2 linked regions of the Homo sapiens genome follow. The protein of the gene in region 1 purifies or fractionates together with the protein of each later gene. This does not show direct contact. Each region holds a gene or a part of one and is shown in the gene's direction. Other genes may lie near its edges. The genes, in order: NRCAM and PTPN23.

Region 1 (3,819 bases):
GGCAAAAATGATCCTTTTGAAATTCTTCTCATTAAATAATGGTAGGAAGGGCTGGAAACTATATTTTGAATATATATATGTTGAATATATATATATGTTTAAATTTTATTATGTGCATAGTGTGTTGGTTCAAAACCCACTGTAACCAGAAAAAAAAAAAATCTATTTCTAGGGCAATCTGAGGGAATCCTGTAGGAGGTCTTCCACTGGGTAATATGCAATGAATTTGATTTATCTTTCTCAAGTGGGCTGAGAGCATTCAAAAAATTCAGTATGAGTATTCAGCATGTAGTGATCTTTTCTCCAAATTTCAACTTTAAAGCTAATTTCATGCCACTTTTTGATGTCCTTGGCATTTGAATGGCATGATTTATGGCATGCATTTTTGATGAACATTTACAGACTCATATTCAACACCACTAACAGATTCTCTCTCAAGGGAAAGGGGAAGTACTAATCTCCCATTAATTATGCCTTAAGGTAAGAGTGGCCTGTCCAAAGAGTTTTGTCCTGGAGTTTTTTGGTTCTTTGAGGAAGGATGGCTTGCGAGCGAGTCCGCTGCTGCCTTCCAAAACCTGGTGTGCCTTTTCAGTCCCTTACCTCAATAGAGAGCTGAAAGGACAAAAGTGAACAAAGGAGGCCTGTTTTGCCTGCCCCACTTGCTGGGCTGTTGTCTTGGCCCTTTTCAGTGAAGGGAGGGGGGAGCTGGGTCAAAGTTGAAGAACACTGAAAAGGAATTCAAGCTTCATGTTGAAATTTGAATTATAGCTTCAGTTTGAGTGCCGAGTAGATTAGTTCGAATTGAAATTTGTGAATCTGTGGAAGCTTAAGTGACAGATGGTGTTGGAACAACCTACATAGAGCTGGATGGCACACCCGAAATGTTGAGTGCCCAAGCGAGGCACTTGGTAAACATCTAGTTAACTGACAAAAGTTTTAAAACTGTAGGAAGTTCAGTTTGCTGCTGTACGCTGCATTAAAACATTGGACTGTGTGAATTAAGGGGAGGCCCCTGTGTCTGGCGCTCACTCAGATGCACTTGTTCCCCCTAATTGCATTGCAAATATTCTTCTGACTGTTCTGCGGCTTTCCCCTCTATTATCTAGTTGAATAAATACAGAAATGCCCAACCAGCTTCCCTTGTAAAATTGCATCGCAGTGTTGTGGTGTTGTCCACAGATTGTTTTGATGTGCAACAAGATACATCTGTCCTAAATATTGTCTAACCAGTGTTTTTTCTTCCCAGATAAGTATATTTATGAAGTGTGATTTTGGCTTTCTGCTCCCGGTGGGAGTCCATCACTCTTATATTTACTCTCGAAGTTTTTCATATGGCACATGGTTTTCCATTCATTTTGGTAGGCAGCATCTGATTGAAAACATTTCAGTAGGAAACGTTTTCTAGTGTGTGCATCACTAGAATAATAAAAGCAGCTACTAGGAGGTAGAGGGTACTAGAATGTATTATAATAAGTGAAATAAAAAGCAATTTTGGGTAATTTGAAATTCTTCCTGGTATTCTGTAAAACTGCGATTGGAAATGGAAAAATTGTAGTATTTGAAAACTGAAAAATTGAAAGTTGAAACATCACCAAATTTTGCTTTCGCATCTTTGACTGCTTAAATGACTCGACATAGTCTTTTCTTCTGATGTTAGTAGCATGATGGCTAAAAGCCATTTTTGTAAATGTATATTTAGTACATTCAAATGAATATTTCTACTTTTAGGGAAATAACATTGACATGGCAATATTTGAACAGTTAGTAACATGGAAATTCCAACATAATAAATACTCTAATGTGAACAACATCTAATTTACTTCAGAATGATTATATTAACTTACACGACATGTTGTGTTTTACATGAATCATGATATATACCTTGTGTGTTTCATGAATTTTAAGGTAAATTTCATTTTAATAGATGTGCTGGGGTTTAAAAAACTCCATGGTTATGTTTACGTTTCTAGTAACAGTTACTGTGATGTGAAATTATAATGGAAGGTAAATAGATGTCAAGGGTTCACTGCTGTCCTAAAACCATGAGGGGGTTCATTAAACAGCAGAGAGGGAGTGAGTTCATGATCAGACTCATTACCTCTAAAGGTAATAGCTTAAAATTTGAAAGAAAGAGAAAGGGAAAAGAATAAAAGTTTTTATGGCTATTGCCTGGCTAATGGAGAATAGTCTCCACTTCATAGCACTCAATACGAAATATTCTAGGGATATTTTACTGTAGTACTTTGGGTCATTGCAGTAACTTGACATCATAAAATAGAAATAACTCATAAGTCACCTTACAAAAATGAAATATGATAAGACATTTACATTTAAAAGAAATGTATTGAGAAGAATTTACTAAGAATTGAAAGCTAAAGTTATTTCAGTGTAACATGCTTAAATTCCTAGCCAAATCCACTCTATTTTCCAGCTGTTTTGTTCCTTTATGTACAGGTGGCCCTAGCTTGAGAAAGTTAGCATATGAAAATGTGAACTTGGTCGGGCGCAGTGGCTCACACCTGTAGTTCCAGCACTTTGGGAGGACAGAGTAGGCGGATCATGAGATCAGGAGTTCAAGAGCGCCCTGGCCAGCATGGTAAAACCCCCTCTCTACTAAAAATACAAAAACAAAAATTAGCCAGGCATGGTGGTGCGTGCCTGTAATCCCAGCTACTCGGGAGGCTGAGGCAGGAGAATCACTGGAACCCAGGAGGCAGAGGTTTCAGTGAGCCAAGATTGTGCCACTGCACTCCAGCCTGGGCAATAGAGCGAGACGCTGTCTAAAAAAAAAAAAAAAAAAAAAAAAAGAAAGAAGTGAACTTGGCAAACCCATATGGGGTGACTGTTCACATCAAAGAGGATTCTTCACTTTGCATAAGGATTATATGATGAGTGAGCTGCTGTAATGTATCAAAGTTCAATTCATGAAAAATTTTTCAGAAATATCTAAGTAGAGACTCTGTTGAAAGAGCAAATAGATACCAAGTGAAACCTAAGCAAATAAGGCTGAATAAAAATTAGTAAAGAGGTAGACAGGTGGGTCTGGGTGTGGTGGCTCATGCTAATCCCAGCACTTTGGGAGGCCTGGGCGGGCAGATCACTTGAGGTCGGGAATTTGAGACCAGCCTGGCCAACATGGTGAAACCCCATCTCTACTAAAAAAATGCAAAAATGAGCCAGGTGTGGTGGTGGGCGTCTGTAATCCCAGCTACTCAGGAGGCTGAGGCAGGAGAATCACCTCAACCCAGGAGGCGAAGGTTGCAGTGAGCTGTGATCATGCACTTGCACTACAGCCTGGGCAACACAGCGAGACTCCATCTCAAAAAAAAAAAAAGACATAGGTTGTAAATGCAGAGAGAACATACGATTGTATAAAAATATTTGATATTTGCTCTAAATAACATTGAGGGGCCGAGTCTGCATGATAAAGAAAAGCAGATAACTAGTCATCCAGGCATTGGGGGCCCTTGCTTATCTTAGTCAGCTTTCTCCATGTCTCCTAACTTCGGAAACCATCCTTGCTCTGTTCTGCGAGGAGCCTGAGCTGCTCTTCACATTATGCATGGTGGTATGTATCTGAGAGCCCCCAAATTTGATAAATGAGTGTGTGCAAGAATGAATGACTGAATACATGAATATTGCAAAATGTCAGAATGTCAGGTGGATCTTTGTTGGGGAAAATTGGGGGGTTTTGTTCTCAGCCCTGGTTTGAAGACATAGATAGATCTAGACCATGAGAAACCAAACATTTATAATTTCATGCCTGGACTCTGTAGATTGTAATTTGCTTGCTGGTTCTAAATTAGGCACTTGAGCAAG
Region 2 (3,819 bases), on another chromosome or scaffold:
AAGTGCAGTGGCATGATCATGGCTCACTGCAGCCTCCACCTCCCAGGCTCAATCACTTCTCCCCCTTCCCAAGCCTGTAGTCCTGAGTAGCTGGGACTACAGGTATGCATCACCGCACCTGGCCAATTTTTGTATTTTTTGTAGAGGCGGAGTCTCGCCATGTTCTTCAGGCTGGTCTCAAAATCCTGGGCTCAAGTGATCCTCCCACTTTGGCCTCCCAAAGTGCTGGGATTATAGGCATGAGCCACCATGCCCGGCCAAGATTTTTCAATACTTTTATATGTGCTATTTTAGTGAGTATTGAAAAAAACTGTGTGGCTAGCGCATCACACCTGTGATTTTAGAGCTGTTATTGCTTAGGATGTGGCTCTTAATTTTAAAAATGGATTGTTTAAAGAAAAATGTTAAGTACAAGTGGTATTTGGATATGGCAGAGGTCATGATGGAGGGGTATGATAAGAATGACTAGATTTGAGAAGCATTGGCCTAATGCTGTGAGCTGCAGCTGTGACATGCCTTATCCTTGCACTGGGCATTCTAGAAGCCTCACTACCAGGGAGATTATCATCCCTGTTTAAAGAAGAGACTGAGTTTCAGAGTCTCCCAAGACACTGCTGGGAAGTGGTGTAGAGTACAACTGGTGCCTGACTTTTCTGTTCCACTGTCCCCAGGGTGTATGTACCCCATCTGAGAGCATCCCTGCTGGCAGCTCAGAGCCGAGCTCCCAGAGTGGAGTGTCCTGGAGGATTTCTTCTGGCTAAGTCCTAGTGAGAGGCTCTGGTCCTCTCTGCAGGGGGCTGAGGGCAGACAGGTGTCAAGCCATCCCCCTCACTGTGCACCTGCTCCTTGGAGGGTGTATTGTTTGCTTTTCTGTTTGTTTAAGCAGAGGGTTCATTTTTTTGTTGTTTTCCCCCCAAAATAATAGCTCTGTTGTTTATCATAAATATTGAAAATGTTTAATATAAATACATAAACAATATGAAGAATTAAATACATGTCTGTCAGATGTATACATATTTATCTATTTATTTATTATTATTATTATTATTTGAGACCGAGTCTCACTCTGTCACCCAGGCTGGAGTGCAGTGGTGCAACCTCAGCTCACTGCAACTTCTGCTCCCCGGATTCAAGTGATTCTCCTGCCTCAGCCTCCTGAGTAGCTGGAATTACAGGTGCGCACCATCATGCCTGGCTACTTTTTGTGTTTTTAGTAGATACGGGGTTTCACCACGTTGCCCAGGCTGGTCTCGAATTCCTGGGCTCAAGCGATCCACCCGCCTCAGCCTCCCAAAGTGTTGGGATTATAGGCGTGAGCCACCTCGCCCAGCCATATCTATCTATTTATATAGAATAAGATAAATTACTTAAATCCTGTCATTCAGCGATAATCACGGTTAACATTATGGTGTACAGTCTTCTGAATTTTCTTTTTGTTTATGTACCTATTTGTGGGTTTTTTTGTTTTTTCTTTTGAGACAGAGTTTTTCTCTTGTTGCCCAGCCTGGAGTGCAATGGCATGATCTCAGCTCACTGCAACCTCCGCCTCCCAGATTCAAACGATTCTCTTGCCTAAGCCTCCCGAGTAGCTGGGATTACAGGCACACACCACCACACCCAGCTAATTTTTGTATTTTTAGTAGAGACGGGGTTTCACCATGTTGGCCAGGCTGGCATCGAACTCCTGACCTTAGGTGATCCATCCGCCTTGGCCTCCCAAAGTGCTAGGATTATGGGCGTGAGCCACCTTGCCTGGCCTGTGTACCCATTTGGATATCAGTATTTGTATGATCCCATTTGTTACATTCTTTTTTTTTTTTTTTGAGACGGAGTCTCGCTGTCGCCCAGGCTGGAGTGCAGTGGCGCGATTTCGGCTCACTGCAGGCTCCGCCCCCCGGGGGTTCACGCCATTCTCCTGCTTCAGCCTCCCTAGTAGCTGGGTCTACAGGTGCCTGCCACCACGTCCGGCTAATTTTTTGTATTTTTAGTAGAGACGGGGTTTCACCGTGTTAGCCAGGATGGTCTCGATCTCCTGACCTCGTGATCCTCCCGCCTCGGCCTCCGAAAGTGCTGGGATTACAGGCGTGAGCCACTGCACCTGGCCACATTCTTTTCTTTTTTTTTTCCCCCAATAGCATGCCATAGGCATCTTAACATATGAGTAACTAGAGACTCTTGTCTTTAGTTTTCATGGCTGCAGCATATTCTCTTGTGAGGCGCCTTGACATAATTAATTTAAAACAGTCCCCTTTAGTGGGAATTTTGGTGGGTATCCAGTTTTACCTTTTGCTTTTTTTGAGAGACAGGGTCTTGCTTCATCACCCAGGCTGGAAAACAGTGGCACAACCATAGCTCACTGCAGCCTTAACCTCCCAGGCTCAATCGATCTTTTCCCGTCGGCCTCCCAAGGAGCTGGGACCAAAGGCACCATCACGCCTAGATAATTTTTAAAATTCTTTTTTGTTGAGACAGGGTCTTGCTACATTGCCCAGACTGGTATCTAACTCCTGGCCTCAAGCGATCCTCCCACCTTGGCCTCCCAAAATGCTGGGACCACATGTGTGAGCCCCTGCACCTGACCTGGAGTCCAGTTTTTGACCCTGGTAATAATGCTGTGATGAATATCCTTGCGTTCATATCCAAGCATTTGCTTTCCTGGAAGTCTGTTACTGTAAACTTTTAGATACAGAACTGTAGGTCATGCTGAGTGTGGCAGCTCACACCTTTAATCCCATCACTTTGGGAGGTAGAGATGGGAGGATCACTTGAGCCCAGGAGTTTGAGAACAGCCTGGGCAACATGGCAAAACCCTGTCTCTATTAAATTCAAAAAACTGTGGGCCAAAAGTTAAGTAGAGTAAAAAACTTAAAACATGTTGCAAACTGCTTTTCAGATGTTTGAGATGGGCTGGGCACAGTGGCTCATGCCTGTAATCCCAGCACTTTGAGAGGCTGAGGCGGGTGGATCACAAGGTCAAGTGTTCGAGACCAGCCTGGCCAAAATGGGGAAACCCCGCCTCTACTAAAAATACAAAATTAGCCAGGCATGGTGGCGTGTGCCTGTAGTCTCAGCTAATTGGGAGGCTGAGGCAGGAGAATTGCTTGAACCCAGGAGGTTGCAGTGAATACTGCATTCCAGCCTGGGTGACAGAATGAGACTCTTTTTTTTTTTTTTTTTTAAAAAAGGAAAAACTATGTGGGATAGATTCAGTCGGCCAGCTGCCAGCCCTGGCTTGTGGAATGTTTTGTTGAACGACTATAGGTATAGCCATGGACTTTTTGGGATCCCTTGGTGTGTGCAGTCGGCCAGCTGTGATGCATTTTCCTGGCATTTGTGAGTTAGCTGGCCTGCGTGTCCACTGCCCCATATGACAACAGGCCTGCTTCTCCCATCCTGCCCCCCAGAATGCTGTCCGTGTCCCACGAGACTTTGAGGGCTGTAGTGTCCTCCGCAAGTACCTCGGCCAGCTTCATTACCTGCAGAGTCGGGTCCCCATGGGCTCGGGCCAGGAGGCCGCTGTCCCTGTCACCTGGTGAGAGCCGCAGGCAGGGCTGGAGGATCCCACGGGGAGTCTGGGTGGTGGGGGTGCTCCTCCCCTCCCTTCCCCCTTCTCCTTGCTGCATAGGATGGGGAATGGCCTCATATGGTCCCCCCAGGCCTCCCCACATCCCCACAATGGGGTGTTTAGTCCCCTTACCTAATCTCAGGGCCCTGGCTAGCTCCTGCCCTCGAGATAACTGGGGTGCCATGTCTGCAGGACAGAGATCTTCTCAGGCAAGTCTGTGGCCCATGAGGACATCAAGTACGAGCAGGCCTGTA

What was found.
Region 2: the proteins of NRCAM (region 1) and PTPN23 fractionate together in Homo sapiens (co-fractionation; one large-scale study listed by BioGRID). This does not show direct contact.

The regions. Positions count from the first base shown.
Region 1 is NC_000007.14:108,446,248-108,450,066, reverse strand, and holds part of NRCAM (neuronal cell adhesion molecule isoform A precursor), read left to right. Parts: intron 1-3,819. UniProt on the Homo sapiens protein: Cell adhesion protein that is required for normal responses to cell-cell contacts in brain and in the peripheral nervous system. Plays a role in neurite outgrowth in response to contactin binding.
Region 2 is NC_000003.12:47,401,248-47,405,066, forward strand, and holds part of PTPN23 (tyrosine-protein phosphatase non-receptor type 23), read left to right. Parts: intron 1-3,404; coding exon 3,405-3,532; intron 3,533-3,757; coding exon 3,758-3,819. UniProt on the Homo sapiens protein: Plays a role in sorting of endocytic ubiquitinated cargos into multivesicular bodies (MVBs) via its interaction with the ESCRT-I complex (endosomal sorting complex required for transport I), and possibly also other ESCRT complexes.